Regions from separate parts of the Homo sapiens genome. Here region 2 is linked to region 1. Evidence: fine-mapped expression QTL. A gene starts in region 1. The other region holds a variant in brackets. All regions are shown on one strand. Distances are from middle to middle.

Evidence for each region. PIP is the estimated chance that this variant, and not a neighbour inherited with it, causes the effect. A credible set is the group of variants that fine-mapping cannot tell apart.
Region 2: its variant is the best candidate, but not a certain one, in a credible set for the expression of RBL2 in blood mononuclear cells (TOPMed, PIP 0.88).

The regions. Positions count from the first base shown.
Region 1 is chr16:53,431,309-53,439,412 of GRCh38, forward strand. It overlaps RBL2 (RB transcriptional corepressor like 2), which reads left to right and starts at 3,163. Exons shown (of 22, transcript NM_005611.4): 1 at 3,163-3,488; 2 at 7,708-7,838. The coding sequence starts at 3,249. RefSeq lists a silencer at 3,218-3,437 and an enhancer at 4,048-4,157.
Region 2 is chr16:53,387,780-53,403,422 of GRCh38, forward strand. No RefSeq gene overlaps it. Among named protein-coding and RNA genes, the nearest start is that of RBL2, 39 kb to the right of the region's middle. The variant C/A (reference allele first, on the strand shown) is at 12,606.

The DNA.
Region 1 (8,104 bases):
TTAAAACAATTTAAGTTTTTCTCTTAGTTGCTAAAAGAAAAACTTTGGACAAGTTAACAGTTTAAGCAAACAACAATTCATGAATTGGGCACCACTTAAAACAAGAAGATATTCAGAGCGCTTCTGCAGGTGAGCAGTAAGCTTTAATAGAAAAGTAAAACAGTTACTTGATTGGCTACAGCTGGGTGTTTGCCTTATTTGGGTGTGAGGGCTGGGCCCGGTGGCTCATGCCTGTAATCCCAGCACTTTGGAAGGCCGAGGTGGTTGGATCATTTGAGGTCAGGAGTTCAAGACCAGCCTGGCCAATGTGCTTAAACCCCGTCTCTACTAAAAATACAAAAATTAGCCGGTGTGGTGGTTGGCTCCTGTAATCCCAGCCACTCTGGAGGCTGAGGCAGGAGAATCGCTTGAACCTGGGAGGCAGAGGTTGCAGTAAGCCGAGATTGCATCATTGCACTCCAGCCTGCGTGACAAGGCAAGACTCTGTCACCAAAAAAAAAAAAAAAAAAAAAAAAGGAAAATCCCTAATTAGAGGCTAGTTGGCAGTTTCTGATTGGTTAAGCTTATGTTTTGTTTTACTGTTGTCTTACTGTTTACACTGAATTCTGGTTTGCTTACATATAAGCTCCAGCTACAGAGACAGATGATATCAGGCTCATGGCCTCTTTATTTGCTTTGACATAGTAAAGTGTTGATAATGATTTCCAAAGGAAGAAATATCATTATTTTAAAATCAATATTCCCAGTGTATATACAGGTAAAATACTAAGATTTTAATACACTTATTATTTATTAATTTATTTATTTATTGAGATGGAGTTGCTCTGTCGCCCAGGCTGGAGTGCAGTGGCATGATCCCAGCTAACTGCAGTCTTTGCCTCCTGGGTTCCAGCAATTCTCCTGCCTCAGCCTCCTGAGTAGCTGGGATTACTGGCACCAGCCACCACTCCTGGCTAATTTTTTGTATTTTTAGTAGAAATGGGGTTTCACAATGTTTGCCAGGCTGGTCTTAAACTCCTAACCTTAAGTGATCTGCCCGCCTTGGCCTCCCAAAGTGTAGGGATTACAGGCGTGAGCCACCGCGCCTTGCCAAATTATTTATTATTATTTTTTTGAGACAGGGTCTCTGTTGCCCAAGCTGTAGTGGCATGGTCACAGTTCACTGCAGACTCCCCAGGCTTAGGCGTTCCTCCCACCTCAGTCTCCCAAGTAGCTAGGATTACAGGCGTGTACCACCACTCTGGGTTAATTTTTCTATTTTTTGTAGAGACAGGGTTTCACTATGTCGCCCAGGCTGGTCTCGAACTCCTGTACTCAAGCAGTCCTCCCACCTTGACCTCCCAAAGTGCTGGATTTACAGGTGTGATCCACAACGTCCAGCCTATATACTTAAGATACTTCTAAACCATTTGTGTTCAACTTCTGTTCTTGCCCCATAGTCACCTTGAGACTCATCACTTAGCCAACTCCAAAAGCATTGCTGATTACTGTGAATTTTACTAAGGTTTTCTTAAGAGGGTTCCATTGTCTCAAAATTGTTCCTGAAATATCCTGTTACCTGTCTACCTGATTTTCTCCTATCTTCAGAGTTCCATTTCCTGTCCTCCCGCCTGTCATTATACCTTCCATAAGCCCCTACTTTTGTCCCAGCACTTTTCCCTCTGTCAGTTTACATATCCCACCAAGCAAAACAAAAATAGCAAAACAGTAATGCCTTCTGAATCCTCAAATTGCTCAATCCTCAGATTGCTCCTCAATCTGGAAAATGTTTTATATCAAGCCCATTTATAAATCAAGGATTGGCAATTTAAAAAATTAAAATAAAGAAAGGAGAATTGGAAATAAAATGAATTGGCTGGGCACGGTGGCTCACGCCTGTAATCCCAGAACTTTGGGAGGCCGAGGTGGGTGGATCACTTGAGGTCAGGAGTTCGAGACCAGCCTGGCCAACATGGTGAAACCCTGCCTGTACTGAAAATACAAAAATTAGCTGGGTGCGGTGGCGCACACCTGTAATCCCAGATACTCAGGAGGCTGAGGCAGGAGAATCGCTTGAACCCAGGAGGCGGAGGTTGCAGTGAGCCGAGATCGTGCCACTACACTCCAGCCTGGGCAACAGAGCCAGACTCTGTCTCAAAAAAAAAAAAAAAGTTTAATTCACGCAGAGCCAGCTGAACGGCAGACAGGAGTTTGGTTATTCAAATCAGCCTACCAGAAAATTCGGAGACTGGGGTTTTTAAAGAATGACTTGGCGGGTAGGGGGCCAGGGATTGGCGAATGCTAATTTGTCAGGTGGGAGGTGAAATCACAGGGGGTTGAAGTGGGCTCTTGCTGTCTTCTGTTACTGAGTGGAATTGCAGAACTTGTTGAGCCAGATTATGGTCTGAGTGGCGCCAGCTAGTGCATCGGAATGCGCGGTCTGAAAAGTATCTCCAGCACCAATCTTAGGTTTTACAATAGTGATGTTATCCCTGAGAGCAATTGGGGAGGTCAGGAATCTTATAGCCTCTGGCTGCAAGCCTCCTAAATCATAATTTCTAATCTTGTGGCTAATTTGTTAGTTCTACAAAGGCAGACTGATCCCCAGGCAAGAATGGGGTTTGTTTTTGGAAAGGACTGTTACAATCTTTGTTTCAAAGTGAAATTAGAAATTAAATTCCTCCTGTAGTTAGTTAGGTCTTCGCCCAGGAATGAACAAGGGCAGCTCGGAAGTGAGAAGCGTGGAGTCATTTAGGTCAGATCCCTTGCACTGTCATAACTTTCTCACTGTTAGGATTTTTGCAAAGGCAGTTTCGTGAACGTACAGAGACAGGCCCTTGCTATTATCCCTATTTTTTAGATAAGGATATCCAGGCGATGAGGAAGTTTTACTTCTGGGAACAGCCTGGATACGAAACCTTCACACGTCAGTGTCTTTTGGACATTTTCTCGTCAGTACAGCCCTGTTGAATGTTCTCACGGTGGGGAGGTACGTGTTTAAAATGCGGGGAAGGTGCTTTTATTTCACCCCTGGTGAAACTAGGGGAGCTAATTTTTTTAAACATGATTTTTGGCCCCCTTGAACCGCCGGCCTGGACTACGTTTCCCAGCAGCCCGTGCTCAAGACTACGGGTGCCTGCAGGCGGTCAGCGTCGTTTGCGGCGGCGCAGGCGCGGTGCGGGCGGCGGACGGGCGGGCGCTTCGCCGTTTGAATGGCTGCGGGCCCGGGCCCTCACCTCACCTGAGGTCCGGCCGCCCAGGGGTGCGCTATGCCGTCGGGAGGTGACCAGTCGCCACCGCCCCCGCCTCCCCCTCCGGCGGCGGCAGCCTCGGATGAGGAGGAGGAGGACGACGGCGAGGCGGAAGACGCCGCGCCGCCTGCCGAGTCGCCCACCCCTCAGATCCAGCAGCGGTTCGACGAGCTGTGCAGCCGCCTCAACATGGACGAGGCGGCGCGGGCCGAGGCCTGGGACAGCTACCGCAGCATGAGCGAAAGCTACACGCTGGAGGTGCGCTCGCGGGCGGAGGGGCGCTTCCGGCCTAGTTGGCGTGAACCGGTGCCTTCCGAGCCGCGTCGCGCGCCTCGAGAGACTCTCGGGCGGGTTGCGGGCTCCCAGCCCCGAGAGGGGTGGGGACTTCCTCTGCGCTATTCCGAGGCTCTTAGCCGCTCCGAGGGCTAACCCGCTCTCGCCGCGCTTTCCTGCGGCTTCCGAATGGGGAACGCGTCTTGCCCTAAAGTAGCACAGCAAGGCTGAGATCGCGCTGGGGTCCCGTTGAGGAAAATGGGTGTGTGTGGCCCATCTGACCCCCCGCCCGCCTTGTTAGTAGAATGAACTAGTGTCGTTGTCAAGACCACACGGACAAGGGGAGGGGACTTGCCCTTATTTGCACCGCGATTAACCGGGTTGTGGCACCTGGGTCTCCAGGCGTCTCCGTCTGTTCGCTTCCCCCTGTTAACCAAATTGCCTTTGCCCTGGCGTTGCGGGCGTTTGAGTCAACGTGCTGATGCGTTTTGGGCTGTGTTTACGTCTGTGTAAACAAATTAATACTCATTTCCCCCCAGGCCAGATGAAATGAGCCCTCCGCCGACCCGGATGTAGACACATGCCCCCATTTGTCACTAGGATCAGGACTGTGGCTACCTCGAGGGCTTTTTGGTCACCCCGGGCATTGCACAGGACTCCTGTTGTTGTTGCGATCCGGGTGTGTTAGGTCGCAGCCTTCGGACAGGGCTTGCAGATGAGAAAAATGGCCATTCTAGCCAGTGAGTGTCAGCTTTGTATGCACCTCCCCTTCATGGGCCAATGGGAAGTGACACGGAAGTACGGATTGTTTATCAGCTGTTTGACTGTGTGTGTGGCATTTAAACCTGAGGCCATTTGATTTCTCAAGTCGTTTTATAATTAATTTGTAGAAAGAGTCGGGCAAATAGGTCCAGGATGCAAAGCCTAACCAAGGTATTATTTAAATATGATGTTTTTGGCTATGTGTACTGATGAGTGAGGTTATTTTTAATTTGTATTTGCATTAATAGAATTTTAATTCAATTACTAGTTCCCTCTTTGAATTGTTAGGTCTGCAGAAGATAGTGTATGGTGGCTTTAGAACCCGACAGACCTGAAACCGCTGGAAAAGTTCAGTATGGTGATCTCTAAACTGGAGATATTTGTGTTTACCTCACAGAGCTGTTCTGAAGATTAAATAAGGCAATAATGTAGTTTCTGGCACATAAAGCACCCATATGGACAGTGTTTTCAAGTTTACTAAGCTCTTTGTATATTTACATGATCTGGCTGAGTAAGCTATGTTCCTATTCATCTCTCAGTGCCTTTCTGTAGTCTGGCAAAGAGAAGGACTGGTTGGCTTTTTATGTTGTTTTTTGTTTTTTGGGTTTTTTTTTGGTAAATGGCCTTAAAGGCTTCCAAACAAGCTCTTATTTTACCCTCAAGATAATCCTGTAAATCAGATAGAACAAGCATTATCGCCATTTATTTGAGGTATTTCAACTCATAGCAGTTAAGTTGTATGAAGTCTAGTGATACATGAGCAAGTATCACGTAATAGCTGGTTAGTAAATTATTTTTGAAAACATGTTTGATTACTCAATTCTTTTGATTACTGAGACTTTAGTTTCAGCTTCTTAGCCCAGTTTATTCAGTAAATGATTTACTCAGTAAAATATTCATCAAATATTTCTTGAGCACCTATTACTTGCTACACATTGTTCTAGGTGCTGGATATAGAGCAGCAAACCTGCTCTTGTGGGGCTTACAGTGAGGTACGCTGTGACAATATGGGATGTCATTCTCATGGGAGTGCAAGGGAAAATAAAGCTCTTATGATGTTTAATACAGAATACTGGTTATGGAATTTTAACTTGATTTCTTGTATTTTCTGTGCATTTTTAACCTGTAACTCATTCTCACAGTCCTCAGCCAAGAAAATGCAGCCTCTGAGACTGTTAAGTAATTTCCCCACTGTGTTATAGCTACTGTATGGCAGAGCCGGAATTTGAAACCAGATCTATTTGACCCTAGAAGATGTGACCATGAGATGTTAATTTTGAGGATAACTTTTTTAGTATTATGGAATTTTCAACATATATTTTTTAGGACCAAAGATAAACTAGGCACAGAGTCTACTCTTTGCATAAATTATTTAAAAGAGCTTCGCGCTCCATTTTGTCATCTAAGCACTGTAAAATTCTCACAAGACTAATTCTTCTTTTTAGGAACGATATAGTTGTAAACTTTCTATTTTTTTTCTTTTTTTTTTTCTCCCTCCACCATCCAAGTAGTTGTGAATTTTCTAGAGCCAAAATAGAACATTATAGATTATCTTTTAAACCCTTTATTGAAGCAGAGGATAATGCTGTGACCGACTTAACTTTATGCTTTCTAAGAGATATTGATATAGTAGAGAAATGCAGTAGTTATGCATCTAAATTTGCTTTTACATCATAAATCAAGAATATTATGAAACCATCTCCCAGAGATATATGTGATACACAGATCTTGGCTGTTTTTTTTTTTTTTACAAAAGAACATCTATGCTATTGATACATATAAGTGGGTTTGTAAGACAGTCTATGTGTAAATGTGAAAAAAGGAAGAATTTCCAGTTCTTCTCATTTTCATTTAGACCAGTAATGAATACATTGAAGCTAAAGGACATCTTCCATCCTTCCTCGCTTTTATAGGGAGAGGAAAGTTGTATCACTTCTTGAGTAAAAAGAATTGTGACGATCTTTTACAAACAATGCCTTAAAAATTATTATTTTTGAATGATATCTGGTAGTGGATCCACAATAGTCTCATTTGGTTATACAAATAAATTTTATGTATTCATGTATGTGTTTTGATTAGGTATAAAATTAGTGGCTGAATATCCATTCAAGCTTAATTTTGTATTTCTATCACTTTTCTAGATTTTGAGCAAGATTAAAAATATAAACAATAGGCCAGGCGCAGGGGCTCACGCCTGTAATCCCAGCACTTTGGGAGGTCTAGGTGGGCGAGTCACGAGGTCAGGAGATCAAGACCATCCTGGCTAACACATTGAAACCCAGTCTCTACTAAAAATACAAAAAATTAGCTGAGCGTGGTGGTGGGCACCTGTAGTCCCAGCTACTCAGGAGGCTGAGGCAGGAGAATGGTGTGAACCTGGGAGGCAGAGCTTGGAGTGAGCCAAGATGGAGCCACTGTACTCCAGCCTGGGTGACACAGTGAGACTCCATCTCAAAAAAAATAAAAAATAAATAAAAATAAACAATAATATTGTTTGCATTACTATGGCTATATAGCAAATTGCCTTAAAACTTAGGGGCAGAAAGCAATTTGTTTTGGTCACAGGTTCTGTGAGTAAGGAATTCAGGCTGGGGACAGTGTGGATGTCATGTTTCTGCGTCAAAATGACTGGTACCTCACCTGGAAGACTTGAGCAACTAGGTACTGGCACAGCTGGAGCTCGTTGGGCATCTCTGTATGTTTGTTCCATGTGGTCTCACCAGCATGGTGATCCAGGGTAGCTAAATTCTTACATGTTGGTTCAGGACTCCGAAGGCACATGTCCTAAGAGAGAGAACCAAGTGGAATCTATACTGCCTTGTATAATCTTTTAGAATTACATAGTTTCACTTCTACCTCTGCAATTATTGATAGAGACAGTTAATCAGTGTGAGGGAACGCAGACCCTTGCCCAGGTCCAAGGTGAGGGAACCCTCTCTACCTCTCAGTGGAATAATGTTAATGTCACATTATAAGAAGAGCCTACGGGGCTGGGTACAGTGGCTCACACCTGTAATCCCAGCACTTTGGAAGGCCAAGGCGGATGGATCACTTGAGGCCAGGAGTTCAAGACCAGCCTGGGCAACATGACAAAACCCTGTCTCTACAAAAAATACAAAAATTAGCCAGGTATGGTGGCGCACTTCTGTAGTCCCAGCTACTTGGGAGGCTGAGGTAGGAGGAGTGCTTGAACCTGGGAGGTGGAGGTTGCAGTGAGCCAAGATTGCGCCACTGCACTCCAGCCTGGGTGACAGAGCAAGATTCCATCTCAAAAAAAAAAAAAAAAAAAAAAAAAAAAAGAGCGTATGAGATAGGGTCATCATTGAAACTAAGTTTCCCACAAAAATATAAACAACACTTTCAATTTAAACATACTTTTAAAAATATTGAAATATTTATATGTAGCTTTTTAACTAAAAATCAATTTTCTTTTCTTTTACAGGGAAATGATCTTCATTGGTTAGCATGTGCCTTATATGTGGCTTGCAGAAAATCTGTTCCAACTGTAAGCAAAGGGACAGTGGAAGGAAACTATGTATCTTTAACTAGAATCCTGAAATGTTCAGAGCAGAGGTAACTATGTTAGAGTTTGACAAGTAGAGTATGGCTAATGTAAGCTCATAAATCATAGTGATAGTAAGAATTATCTCTGTTTATCATTTTCTGAGCATTTGTACCTGTGGACTGGTGAAATTAGATGCTAAAACTAGCATCTAATGATTTTCCTTTCTTTATATCACAGTTAATATCCATTATATTTTACTTCTTTGGTGAAAATATTTAAATTTTAATGTTTTAGGCACTTGTATGGCAGAATTTATTTTTAAAGTTTAGGACAT
Region 2 (15,643 bases), 40 kb before region 1:
GATTTAAGTATCAAGTAGTTAAAATGTTCTCCTCTCAACCTGTATCTTGAATAATGAGAAGAAAAATGTTCTTCTCTTTGTCTTTGCACGTTTGAGAATCCCTACTAAATTTATTAGCTCCATAATACATTTTTGTTCTCAGAGTAATTCATAGCTTTTCATCTCTCTTTTTAAAAAAATCATGTTGGGTGGTGTGTATTTCATTAAATTCATGTCCTTATTGAATTACTCTATAGCACAAGCATTTTTAGAAGATTTCTTGTATTCCTTGGATCTTAGTTTTCCCAGAATGTGTTCTTCCTTGGATGTTTTTCATACCATGTTCTTTCTCTCCTGTATTGGTGTTATTTCTGTGCATAATGATAATGACAGGATCCTTTTTAAAAAATATTATTGATCCTAACGTGGCTGGTTTTAGCCAGACCTCTAATTGGCTGTGATTAGTACAGATGGGTTCTTGTAGACACTCCTCCAAAAATATTTGTGACATCTGTCTTCTAAGCTGCATCTAATGCATTTGATGTTGCATTCTCTGTTCCTTTTTAATAGCAGAGGCCTTGGGGTAGGGGATGGGAGAACCTGTCTAAGAAAACCTTTAGCTCTTTGTTGTAGGCCTGAAGACTGTTCTTTCCCCTCTCAACTTTGAATAAATACTCCTGGGGTCTCATTCTCCCAACTCTACATATTGCCTCAAAAATTGGCAAGCCCCTGGCAGCCCCTCCCAGTGTCTGCAGAAGAGTAGTGTATAAGGGCTTCTGCTCTTGATGGTGTATTTCCTTGATTTTTCCTCTCAAGCTGCCTACTCTACCTGCATCTCCCCATCTTTTAACAGTGCCTATTAAATGATGGCCCATCAATATTGTTACTGTAATTCCTAAACTGATTTTCAAAGCATTCTTATTTTTTTCTATCAGAGATAAATAAATCATTTAGGAAGAGATTCATTTGAACATTCTTGTTTATAAGCCAAAGGGTTTCCAAAGAGGAATAGTTTGAAGATTGACAAAAATGGGGATAATTTGTGAGAGTGAATGCCTGGAGAGTATCAGGGAACATCTAGAACATACAATAAGAGGATACATGGAAGGGCAACTTTTCCTTTGAGACAGGAAGGGAAAGACATATGGATGAAATGAGTGAAATTATACAGAGTTGGGATTTCCTCTTGATGGCTTCTTCTTCAGGTAACCACAGAGTCTGAGCACTATCAAAAATTCTTCCTGGGCCAGGCATGGACTCCTAGTGGATTGCCTGAGCTCAGGAGTTCAAGACCAGCCTGGGTAACATGGTGAAACCCCATCTCTACTAAAAATACAAAAAAATTAGCCAGGCCTGGTGGCATGTGCCTGTAATCCCATCTACTTGGGAGGCTGAGGCACAAGAACCACTTGAACCTGGGCGGCGGAGGCTGCAGTGAACTGAGATCGTGCCACTGCACTCTAGCCTGCGTGACAGAGCAAGACTCTGTCTCCAGAAAAAAAAAAAGGGGGGGCATGGTGGCCGGTGCCTGTAATTCCAGCACTTTGGGAGGCCGAGGCAGGTGGATCACCTGAGGTTAGGAGTTCAAGACCATACTGGCCAACATGGTGAAAAGTTGTCTCTACTAAAAATACAAAAAAGTTAGCTGGGTGTGGTGGTGGGCACCTGTAATCCCAGCTACTCAGGAGGCTGAGGCAGGAGAATCACTTGAACCCAGGAGGTGGAGGTGGCAGTGAGCCGAGATTGCGCCACTGCACACCAGCCTAGGCAACGAGAGTGAAACTCCATCTCAAAAACAAAACAAAACAAAACAAAACAAAACAAAACAAAACAAAACAAAACAAAAAAACTTTCTGTACATCTCCTCCACCTTTCCTGTGACTATCAGCTTTACACATTATGTCAGGAACATTTTCTGGATAGCTAAAAGGGGGTGAATATGCTTATATTTTAGGAGCCAGTGACATTCAAGAATGTTGTTGTAGACTTTACTGAGGGGGAGTGGAGATAACTGAGCCCTCCACAGAGGAATCTGTACAGAGAAGTGACACTGGAGAACTGTAGGAATCTAATCTATGTGCGTAAGAGCCGTTTTCTTTTGTTACTGAAAATCTTCCTATTTGAGGGTCTTTGCGTCCTCAGTTATTAACAGCCATGAGTCTTCATAGCATTTTACTCTGCTGGGCTTATATGGTCCTCAAAACCAAAGGTTATAAAATCTAGTTGGCCCCCAAGACACAAGATGTTCCTAATACATTTTCCCCAGGTAAATTGCCTTTATTTTTAAAGAGTTGATGTTAGGAGCTTTCTATACTACTCCTCCCTTAAACCTCACAGTAGCCATCATTCAGTGAGCCAAACTTTAAGGGGTTAGGGCTGAATTTTCAGATATTTGTTATATCTTTCTTTCCCCATGGGTGGGCTGTCATCCCTTCAAAGCCAGTGTTATCTCCCAGCTGGAGCTAGAAGAGTTGTGGATGATGGGCTGGGCACCCCTAACAGCCACTTGTCCAGCTGAGAAATAGAAGCATGATGTTCTTGGAATTGGTCAATGAAGAAGACATTTCTTACAGTGTTGTCTGAGGAATTCATCTCATAGTCATATCTATTTTCACTTATTCTTTATCTTTCTATCCTATTAGTTTCTCCTTCATATTTCTGAGAGGAAGATGTGTTCTTCCTTAACTAAGTTCACATTTCCTTTTGTTTTCAAACTTCCTTCCCTTCTTTTCTCACTCATCTCTTCCCACTCGTCTCTTTACTGTGGCTTGCAAGCATGATGACTCCTTCTCACTCCAGCATTCTCAGCTTTGTCTTTCACAGCCTCCTTTCTTTAGTCATTTAGCTTTTCATGACTCTTTCACCCAATAAATAGAAATTCACGTACTGTACATTGTCAGATCTCACTGCTTCAGAGCAAGATTTGGTTAAAACTTCCTAGAAAGGAGTTTAGCCACATGTATCAAGAGTTTTAATAATACCCTTTTAGTCATTCTTCTGACAGGACCCCTGTCTAGTAGATATCATAGAGGTCAACAATGAGTCATGAACAGTTCTGTTCCCTTGGCATTGTAAGTAACTGATTTCAATATCATGGCATTGTTTATGCAAATTATGAAATATCTACACATTGAAAAATTATAATGTTATTAGAAACATATTCACAGAAATTTTCAATGATGCGGATAGTGCATTATGTAAAGAAAGTAAACTATGAAATTTTAACTACACTTAAATTTAGCAATAGAAATACTTAAATCAAATAACACTTATTACATGTTGACTCTCCTCCCACCTTTAAATGCAGTTATTATGATATGCTATTAAGTGTAATTTTTCTCCTTATTTTATACCCAGGCATTTCCTAAGACTTGCTATTTCTGTCCCTCCTTCCTACTTCAGTGTACTGACATCCCTGTGTATTTTGGTTCTTTTGCCCCCATTTGTTCAGCAAACATTTATTGGGCACCATGCAGGAAAGGATCTAAAGGGAGCACTCCAGGATGTTGAGGGTAGAGATTGCTGGTGTTGAAGTTGCAAGTCATTTTTCTTTCCTTCTTTATTCTCTTTCATTTCTTCTAAACTTTCCACAATGGGCATATTTTCATTTAAAAATCTAACAGAAAGAAACACTCTGTATGATATATACTGTTACCATGTGCATTTTTCCATAATTCCTTGCTGATTAAATTTCTTTTTGCTTCTCAACCATCATTTTGGTTTCTAAATACTGTCCTTCTACTGAAATTACTTATTCAGAGGCAACCATTAGATTTCTTCTAAAAAATAGGCTAGGCTTTTTCCAGTTTTCTTCATCTTCAGTTTTTCTGACATACTTTGCCATTTTGATTATTGACTTTGGGTGTAATAAAAATGTATTGTGGAAATTTTAGAAAATACAAATAAGCAAAAAATAAAATTTGAAATCAGTGATCTCATGTCTTGGAGAGAGATAGCTCATGGGCATATGTTATGTTGTATTTATTATCTACTATCTAGAATAATCATTACTCATCATATAAAATAACTGATAGGCATTTAATTTTATGGATTTGCCATTACTGATGAAATTAGGTACCTGGGATTGAACATTTAGGTTATTGCCAATTTCTTTCCTTTATAAATGATACAGATTTAAACATCCTTGTAAATGTCTTGCACATTTGTTCCGTCAGAGCTTAGTATAAAATTCTTAGAAAATGAACTTTTTTGCAGCGAAGATTATGAATAACAATCACTTAAAGCTTTTGTTAACATGTTGTTGTTTTTTTTTCAGAAGGGCAATACTAGTTTGTTTACCTATCCCTCAGTTATACCTGCATGTGACCTGGAACACGTGGCAGTTCATGGTTTTTCATTATATTTTTATTACTGCTGAATTTTTACATTTTTCAATGTAGTTACTGACCCTTTACTTTTTATATTTTATAAGCTGTCTGATCTTCTCATTAGCCCATTTTTTTCATTAATGTGAAAATATGTTTTCAGGATACAGAGCTGCACTGTACAGTACTAATGCATTTGGCTCGTAAGGCAACTGAAACATGGCCAGTTCTCACTGGGACATGCTATGAGTATAAAATATACCCCAGATTTTGTAGACTTAGTAAGAAAAGAAAGACTGTAAAATATCTCAATACCTGTTATGCTGAATCCCTGTTTAAATGATAATATTTTGGATATATTGGGTTGAATAAAATATATTCTTTAATTTTACCTGTATTCTCTTACCTTTTTAAATGTGGCTACTGGAAAACTTAAAAATAAATATGCGCATCACAGCACTTGTGGCTCTCATTATATTTCTGTTGAAAAGCACTGATACAAATAGTCAATTCCTGTATATTTTGACTACTTTTGTCTTTTAGCTTTTTTTGAGTTCATTATTATTACAAAAATAAAACATGCTTGATTAAAACATTCAAACCATATAGAAATTCAAAAAAATACAAATCTGCTATAAAAAATCTTTCATCCCTCTGCAGTTCCAATGATAGCCAGTATTAAGCCATTGAGTACAGAATCTGGGATATGTTTTGCTTATCATAAGGTTTATGTGTGAAGTCACATTATCCCTAATTTTCTACCCTCCAGAGGACTAAAAACCCAGCCCTATCTTCTGAATTATTCCTTCCCTCCACCTAAGTTGTATAGGCCACTTAGCACCATGAGGATTTCTAAACTTTGAAAAGTAATGGCCTTGTTTTTTTCAGAAGAAAGCGATTTTATTATGATAGACCATTTTTTTCTAATACAATAATGAAACACTACTTATTTGTGTTAATGATACCAAGTTGAGTCTTCTACTCATCTGGGGCTTTGCTGATGCTAAGCACTGTTATGTATTGTTAAAAATGAAGCTTCTGTCTTTCCAAGAATTTGTCCTAGGCTCTAGCTAACTGCTAACTCAGTTGAAGTGGTATTGTATTTGGTGGTGACTATATCTTGTGCATTGGTTTGTATATTTAGTTTATTTATTCAACAGGGATCTGTTGTTCAATGTGGTTGATTTAAATTCCAAGCTTTAATTTTGTAATTTAAACAACATACATACACATGTGTGCTTGTAAAGACAGAAGTCTGCTATTGGTCAGAATCATATAGACTGTGTCACAGATAAGGAAGCACCTGCTACTGGTTGCTTCATTACTATGGAGAAGACCTTGCCAAGTAAGTGAAACAAGTAACGGATGGGTTTAGGATGCAGATTTGCCACTATTGCACAGGAGAAATCCCAGGTTCTATGTGGACGATGGGAATTTGGATTGAGCTGATAAGGGTCAGTCTAGGAAAAGTTCCCCTAACATTCTTCAGATTTTTCTTATTGCATACTTCACAACTTGTCTCAATTATTGGTCGAATCTATTTTTTTCTTCCTGATTTGAGATCCCATCTTTATCAAGTGCTGTATTTCCATTAATTCATTCAATAAATGTGTAGTGAGTCTTGCATCTGGAGATATAACAGTGAAGAAGACCTAAAAAGTGCTTTCTTTCAAAGAGCTTACATTTGATCTGGGGTAAAGGGGTGCAAAAATATGGAGGAGACAAACAATAAATAGAACTTTAGGTAATGATGACTGCCTTAGTGAAAACAAAATGGGATATTGTGAGAAAGTAACTACAGTGAGTGACTACTTAAGACTGGGTGGTAAGGGGGGGCTTTCTCAGATGGTATCATTTAAGGTGAAACATGAATGACAGAAGGGACCCGGCCTTTCAAAAACCTGGTATAAGAGTATTTCAGATGCTAAGGCAAGAGTAAGCTTGGTGAGGGTGGTACTAGAGTGCTAAGAAGTGAGATCCGGCCAGGCGCGGTGACTCACGCCTGTAATCCCAGCACTTTGGGAGGCTGAGACAGGCAGATCATGAGGTCAGGAGATCGAGACCATCTGGCTAACACGGTGAAACCCCGTCTCTACTAAAAATACAAAAAAAAATTAGCTGGGCGTGGTGGCGGGCGCCTGTAGTCCCAGCTACTGCGGGGTGGGGGCTGAGGCAGGAGAATGGCGTGAACCTGGGAGGCGGAGCTTGCAGTGAGTGGAGATCGCACCACTGCACTCCAGCCTGGGCGACAGAGCGAGACTCTGTCTCAAAAAAAAAAAAAAAGAATTGAGATCCAAGAGATAGAGAGGGATTGGGTCTCATAGAGCTATGGGAATTCAGGTGAGGATTTGAGATAGAAGGGAGACATCTGGATTATGGGGAGGCAAGAAGATCCTCAGGAGACCTTTTGGGGTAGTCTAAGTGAAAGATGATGAGGGCCAGGGAAGTGAAGACAGAGATAAATAGATTTAAGACACAACAGGGCAGGATTTGATAAAGTTGACAGGAATCTTCAATTATTAAATGTAGAAGGTAAGTTAAGAAAGGGATATAATACTTCTAAGGTTTTGGTTTGAGTAACTGTGGGGATAGTAGTGAAATTGACAGAAATGGGGAAGAACATAAGAACATGTTTTTGGGAGCTGCAAATCAAGAATTCTGTTTTGCACATGTTAAGTGTGAGATGTTCATTGTACATCTATATGAGTGTGTCAGATAAACAGTCGGGTAAAGGGCCAGAGTTCAGGAAAGGAGCAGGCATGGCGATGAATTTGGAAGTCCTAGTGATATAGATGGTAATTACAGCCACAGTACTGGATGCTGAATGAAATAGATAAGAGGGATTCCAGGACACACCTGTGGGTCAGCCCATTTGTCTGGGCCTTCTGTTATTCTGGGTTACCTCTAATCACTAGCTAAATTTCTTGACATTATTTCTTTTGGATCTTTATGCGTATATTTACCTTTCACCTGATTAAAAAACCTGCAGAAGCTTTGCATGGCACGTCAACATCTCCTGCAATTTCAGGGCTCTTTATAACCTGGCCTTCCATAATCTAGCCCTTTTCCATCTTAGCCAATCATCCTGACATCCTCTGTGGATACACTTCCTTGTGTTTGAGCCTGTTACGTGTCTTTCATCTTTTTCTGTTGTCTTAGAGTTGAATTTAGATTCCACTTTCCTCATGAAACATTTGACTTCTTCAGTCTAAACAGACCACTCACATCTCTAAACTATTACTGTAGTTACAGTCTTACATTTAAATACTTATTATTTTTTATTTTCACAGATTATAATAAACATGCTTTCTTTTCAGTCCAAAAGAAAAGTTATTTGAATAAAATATACATGTGGCTTACAATCATACATAGAAAAGCTCAATATCACTGATCATTAGAGAAATGCAAATCAAAATAACAATGAAAAACTCTATATCTAAATGGCCTAAGCATCCTTTAAAAAGGCAGAAATGGTTGGAATAGGTTAAAAACAACAAAACTACATGCTGCTTTTAAGAAATGAATTTTAAACATAAATTCACAAATAGTATAGACAAACATGAAAAAGATATGGCATGCTCATCTTAAAAGGAAGCTGGAGCAGCTATGTTAATAACAGGCAAAGTAGATTTCAGAGCAAAGAATATTGCTAGAGGTAAAGAAAGAAAAATGATATAATCATCTCAATCGATGCAGAAAGGCATTTGATAACATTTAACATCAATTCCTGCAAACAGTATTAGAAAGCATCTTCCTGAATCTAATCAAGGACATATACAGATAAAAGCTACAGTTAACAGCAGCTGACATTATTCTTAATAGTCAAAGAATGAATGCATTCCCCCTATGGTTAAAAAAAATGGATGCCTCTGTTCTATTCAATAGTATTGGAGTTTCTAGCCAATGCAATAAGGAAAGCAGAAGAAATAAAATACATGGAGAATGGCAGGAAGAAGTAAAACTGTCTTTATTTGCAGATTATGTGATTGTTTACATAGAAAATCCCATGGAATTTACAAACAGGCTGCCTGGCTTAGTGTTAAAGGCGTGCCCAACACATACCCAGAGGCCCTTGGCAAAAACTGGGAAACTTCGCTTCCCAGTGCTAAGGGAAATCTCTCCAGTCATTTGCTGACCACTAAGCGAACTGACCCAGGACTTCATTACAACAAAAAATACAGACTTTACAGATTTAGTTCAGAAATATTACTAAAACGATGCTAAATAATCACAGTAACAAAACCTGGGGCAGGTGGGCAAATCTGATTTCCAGAGTTGCCATGTAATTTAAAGTGTCCAGTTTCCAACAAAAATATATTAAGAAGCATGCAAGTAAATAAGAATATATGGCCCAAAAGGGGAAAAGCAGTCAGTAGAGAACTATTCTTGAGGAAATGCAGACATTGGACTGACTAGACAAAGACTAAGTTGGCTATTTTAAATCAGTTATTTCAAAGAGTTAAAGGAAACCATGTCAGAAGAACTATAGGAAAGTATGAGGGCAGTGTCTCACAAAATAGTAAATATTGGATCAGGAAAAATAATTAATCAGTACTAGGCCTAATACCTGGGTGATGAAATAATCTGTACAACAAACCCCCATGACATAAATTTACCTATGTAACAAATCTGCACATGTACCCCTGAATTTAAAGTTTAAAAAAAAGAAATAGAAAATATTTTTTAAAAAGAATAAAATAGAAAATCTGGAATGGACAAGCACAATAAATGAAATTAAAAATTCACTAGATGGGCTAAATAGCAGAGTTGAACAGTCAGAAAAAGAATTAGGGAACTTAAAGTTAGCTCAGTTAAGATTATATAATTAGAGATGATGGCCAAATAGGAACAGCTCCAGTCTACAGCTCCCAGCAGGAGCGACGCAGAAGACGGGTGATTTCTGCATTTCCATCTGAGGTACCGGGTTCATCTCACTAGGGAGTGCCAGACAGTGGGTGCGCGCACCATGCGCGAGCCAAAGCAGGGCAAGGCATTGCCTCACTCGGGAAGTGCAAGGGGTCAGGGAATTCCCTTTCCTACTCAAAGAAAGGGGTGACAGATGGCACCTGGAAAATCGGGTCACTCCCACCCGAATACTGCGCTTTTCCGAAGGGCTTAAAAAACTGCACACCAGGAGATTATATCCCGCACCTGGCTCGGAGGGTCCTACGCCCACGGAGTCTCCCTGATTGCTAGCACAGCAGTCTGAAATCAAACTGCAAGGTGACAGCGAGGCTGGGGGAGGGGTGCCCGCCATTGCCCAGGCTTGCTTAGGTAAACAAAGCAGCCGGGAAGCTCGAACTGGGTGGAGCCCACCACAGCTCAAGGAGGCCTGCCTGCCTCTGTAGGCTCCACCTCTGGGGGCAGGGCACAGACAAACAAAAAGACAACTGTAACCTCTGCAGACTTAAATGTTCCTGTCTGACAGCTTTGAAGAGAGCAGTGGTTCTCCCAGCACGCAGCTGGAGATCTGAGAACGGGCAGACTGCCTCCTCAAGTGGGTCCCTGACCCCTGACCCCCGAGCAGCCTAACTGGGAGGCACCCCCCAGCAGAGGCAGACTGGCACCTCACACGGCCGGGTACTCCAACAGACCTGCAGCTGAGGGTCCTGTCTGTTAGAAGGAAAACTAACAAACAGAAAGGACATCCACACCAAAAACCCATCTGTACATCACCATCATCAAAGACCAAAAGTAGATAAAACCACAAAGATGGGGAAAAAACAGAGCAGAAAAACTGGAAACTCTAAAAAGCAGAGCGCCTCTCCTCCTCCAAAGGAACGCAGTTCCTCACCAGCAACGGAACAAAGCTGGACAGAGAATGACTTTGACGAGCTGAGAGAAGAAGGCTTCAGACGATCAAATTACTCCGAGCTATGGGAGGACATTCAAACCAAAGGCAAAGAAGTTGAAAACTTTGAAAAAAATTTAGAAGAATGTATAACTAGAATAACCAATACAGAGAAGTGCTTAAAGGAGCTGATGGAGCTGAAAACCAAGGCTCGAGAACTACGTGAAGAATGCAGAAGCCTCAGGAGCTGATACGATCAACTGGAAGAAAGGGTATCAGCGATGGAAGATGAAATGAATGAAATGAAGTGAGAAGGGAAGTTTAGAGAAAGAAGAATAAAAAGAAATGAGCAAATCCTCCAAGAAATATGGGACTATGTGAAAAGACCAAATCTACGTCTGATTGGTGTACCTGAAAGTGACGGGGAGAATGCAACCAAGTTGGAAAACACTCTTCAGGATATTATTCAGGAGAACTTCCCCAATCTAGCAAGGCAGGCCAACATTCAGATTCAGGAAACACAGAGAACGCCACAAAGATACTCCTCGAGAAGAACAACTCCAAGACACATAGTTGTCAGATTCACCAAAGTTGAAATGAATGAAAAAATGTTAAGGGCAGCCAGAGAGAAAGGTCGGGTTACCCTCAAAGGGAAGCCCATCAGACTAACAGCGGATCTCTCAGCAGAAACTCTACAAGCCAGAAGAGAGTGGGGGCCAATATTCAACATTCTTAAAGAAAAGAATTTTCAACCCAGATTTTCATATCCAGCCAAACTAAGCTTCATAAGTGAAGGAGAAATAAAATACTTTACAGACAAGCAAATGCTGAGAGATTTTGTCACCACCAGGCCTGCCCTAAAAGAGCTCCTGAAGGAAGCGCTAAACATGGAAAGGAACAACCGGTACCAGCCGCTGCAAAATCATGCCAAAATGTAAAGACCATCGAGACTAGGAAGAAACTGCATCAACTAACGAGCAAAATAACCAGCTAACATCATAATGACATGATCAGATTCACACATAACAATATTAACTTTAAATGTAAATGGACTAAATGCTCCAATTAAAAGACACAGACTGGCAAATTGGATAAAGTCAAGACCCATCAGTGTGCTGTATTCAGGAGACCCATCTCACGTGCAGAGACACACATAGGCTCAAAATAAAAGGATGGAGGAAGATCTACCAAGCAAATGGAAAACAAAAAAAGGCAGGGGTTGCAATCCTAGTCTCTGATAAAACAGACTTTAAACCAACAAAGATCAAAAGAGACAAAGAAGGCCATTACATAATGGTAAAGGGATCAATTCAACAAGAAGAGCTAACTATCCTAAATATATATGCACCTGATACAGGAGCACCCAGATTCATAAAGCAAGTCCTTAGAGACCTACAAAGAGACTTAGACTCCCACACATTAATAATGGGAGACTTTAACACCCCACTGTCAACATTAGACAGATCAATGAGACAGAAAGTCAACAAGGATACCCAGGAATTGAACTCAGCTCTGCACCAAGCAGACCTAATAGACATCTACAGAACTCTCCATGCCAAATCAACAGAATATACATTTTTTTCAGCACCACACCACACCTATTCCAAAATTGACCACATACTTGGAAGTAAAGCTCTCCTCAGCAAATGTAAAAGAACAGAAATTATAACAAACTATCTCTCAGACCACAGTGCAATCAAACTAGAACTCAGGATTAAGAATCTCACTCAAAACCGCTCAACTACATGGAAAGTGAACAACCTGCTCCTGAATGACTACTGGGTACATAACGAAATGAAGGCAGAAATAAAGATGTTCTTTGAAACCAACAAGAACAAAGACACAACATACCAGAATCTCTGGGACACATTCAAAGCAGTGTGTAGAGGGAAATTTATAGCACTAAATGCCCACAAGAGAAAGCAGGAAAGATCCAAAATTGACACCCTAACATCACAATTAAAAGAACCAGAAAAGCAAGAGCAAACACATTTAAAAGCTAGCAGAAGGCAAGAAATAACTAAAATCAGAGCAGAACTGAAGGAAATAGAGTCACAAAAAACCCTTCAAAAAATTAATGAATCTAGGAGCTGGTTTTTTGAAAGGATCAACAAAATTGATAGACCGCTAGCAAGACTAATAAAGAAAAAAAGAGAGAAGAATCAAATAGACGCAATAAAAAATGATAAAGGGGATATCACCACCGATCCCACAGAAATACAAACTACCATCAGAGAATACTACAAACACCTCTACGCAAATAAACTAGAAAATCTAGAAGAAATGGATAAATTCCTTGACACATACACCCTCCCAAGACTAAACCAGGAAGAAGTTGAATCTCTGAATAGACCAATAACAGGCTCTGAAATTGTGGCAATAATCAATAGCTTACCAACCAAAAAGAGTCCAGGACCACATGGATTCACAGCCGAATTCTACTAGAGGTACAAGGAGGAACTGGTACCATTCCTTCTGAAACTATTCCAATCAATAGAAAAAGAGGGAAT[C/A]CTCCCTAACTCATTTTATGAGGCCAGCATCATCCTGATACCAAAGCCGGGCAGAGACACAACCAAAAAAGAGAATTTTAGACCAATATCCTTGATGAACATTGATGCAAAAATCCTCAATAAAATACTGGCAGACCGAATCCAGCAGCACATCAAAAAGCTTGTCCACCATGATCAAGTGGGCTTCATCCCTGGGATGCAAGGCTGGTTCAATATACACAAATCAATAAATGTAATCCAGCATATAAACAGAACCAAAGACAAAAACCACATGATTATCTCAATAGATGCAGAAAAGGCCTTTGACAAAATTCAACAACGCTTCATGCTAAAAACTCTCAATAAATTAGGTATTGATGGGACGTATTTCAAAATAATAAGAGCTATCTATGACAAACCCACAGCCAATATCATACTGAATGGGCAAAAACTGGAAGCATTCCCTTTGAAAACTGGCACAAGACAGGACTCTTCTCACCACTCCTATTCAACATAGTATTGGAAGTTCTGGCCAGGGCGATTGGGCAGGAGAAGGAAATAAAGGGTATTCAAATAGGAAAAGAGGAAGTCAAATTTTCCCTGTTTGCAGACGACATGATTGTATATCTAGAAAACCCCATCGTCTCAGCCCAAAATCTCCTTAAGCTGATAAGCAACTTCAGCAAAGTCTCAGGATACAAAATCAATGTACAAAAATCACAAGCATTCTTATACACCAACAACAGACAAACAGAGAGCCAAATCATGAGTGAACTCCCATTCACAATTGCTTCAAAGAGAATAAAATACCTAGGAATCCAACTTACAAGGGATGTGAAGGACCTCTTCAAGGAGAACTACAAACCACTGCTCAACGAAATAAAAGAGGATACAAACAAATGGAAGAACATTCCATGCTCATGGATAGGAAGAATCAATATAGTGAAAATGGCCATACTGCCCAAGGTAATTTATAGATTCAATGCCATCCCCATCAAGCTACCAATGACTTTCTTCACAGAATTGGAAAAAACTACTTTAAAGTTCATATGGAACCAAAAAAGAGCCCGCATCACCAAGTCAATCCTAAGCCAAAAGAACAAAGCTGGAGGCATCACACTACCTGACTTCAAACTATAGTACAAGGCTACAGTAACCAAAACAGCATAGTACTGGTAGCAAAACAGAGATATAGATCAATGGAACAGAACAGAGCCCTCAGAAATAATGCCGCATATCTACAACTATCTGATCTTTGACAAACCTGAGAAAAACAAGCAATGGGGAAAGGATTCCCTATTTAATAAATGGTGCTGGGAAAACTGGCTAGCCATATGTAGAAAGCTGAAACTGGATCCTTTCCTTACACCTTATACAAAAATCAATTCAAGATGGATTAAAGACTTAAACATTAGACCTAAAACCATAAAAACCCTAGAAGAAAACCTAGGCATTACCATTCAGGACATAGGCATGGGCAAGGACTTCATGTCTAAAACACCAAAAGCAATGGCAACAAAAGCCAAAATTGACAAATGGGATCTAATTAAACTAAAGAGCTTCTGCACAGCAAAAGAAACTACCATCAGAGTGAACAGGCAACCTACAAAATGGGAGAAAATTTTCGCAACCTACTCATCTGACAAAGGGCTAATATCCAGAATCTACAATGAACTCAAACAAATTTACAAGAAAAAAGCAAACAACCCCATCAAAAAGTGGGTGAAGGACATGAACAGACACTTCTCAAAAGAAGACATTTATGCAGCCAAAAAACACATGAAAAAATGCTCACCATCACTGGCCATCAGAGAAATGCAAATCAAAACTACAATGAGATACCATCTCACACCAGTTAGAATGGCAATCATTAAAAAGTCAGGAAACAACAGGTGCTGGAGAGGATGTGGAGAAATAGGAACACTTTTACACTGTTGGTGGGACTGTAAACTAGTTCAACCATTGTGGAAGTCAGTGTGGCGATTCCTCAGGGATCTAGAACTAGAAATACCATTTGACCCAGCCATCCCATTACTGGGTATATACCCAAAGGACTATAAATCATGCTGCTACAAAGACACATGCACACATATGTTTATTGCGGCATTATTCACAATAGCAAAGACTTGGAACCAACCCAAATGTCCAACAATGATAGACTGGATTAAGAAAATGTGGCACATATACACCATGGAATACTATGCAGCCATAAAAAATGATGAGTTCATGTCCTTTGTAGGGACATGGATGAAACTGGAAATCATCATTCTCAGTAAACTATCGCAAGAACAAAAAACCAAACACCACATATTCTCACTCATAGGTGGGAATTGAACAATGAGAACACATGGACACAGGAAGGGGAACATCACACTCTGGGGACTGTTGTGGGGTGGGGGGAGGGGCGGAGGGATGGCATTGGGAGATATACCTAATGCTAGATGACGAGTTAGTGGGTGCAGGGCACCAGCATGGCACATGTATACATATGTAACTAACCTGCACATTGTGCACATGTACCCTAAAACTTAAAGTATAATAATAATAATAAAAAGATTATATAATTAGAGTAACAGAAAGAAAAAGATAATGATTGAAAACTTCCAAAATTTGATTTTTTAAAAACACAAAAAGCTGAACAAATTCCAGAGAGGATAAACTCAGAGGTACCTCATGATAAAAAATTTGATAGACGTAACATCATACAAAGTATGGTTGAAAACACCAAAAGCTCAACAAATTCCAGAGCGGATAAACTCAGAGATACCTCATGATAAAAAATTTGATAGACCTAACATCATACAAAGTATGTTCTCCAACCACAGTGGAATAAAATTAGGAAACAATGACAGAAGAAAAGTAGAGAAATTCATAAATATGTAGAAATTAACCAACACACTATTCAAAGGACAGTAGGTCAAAAAAAAATTAACAAAGGAAATTAGAAAATACCTAGAGATGAAGAAAAAGAAAACACAGCAAAACCTATGGGATGCAGCTAAAGCAGTGCTTAGCATGAAACACACAGCTGTAAGCACCTATGTGAGGAATAAATCACC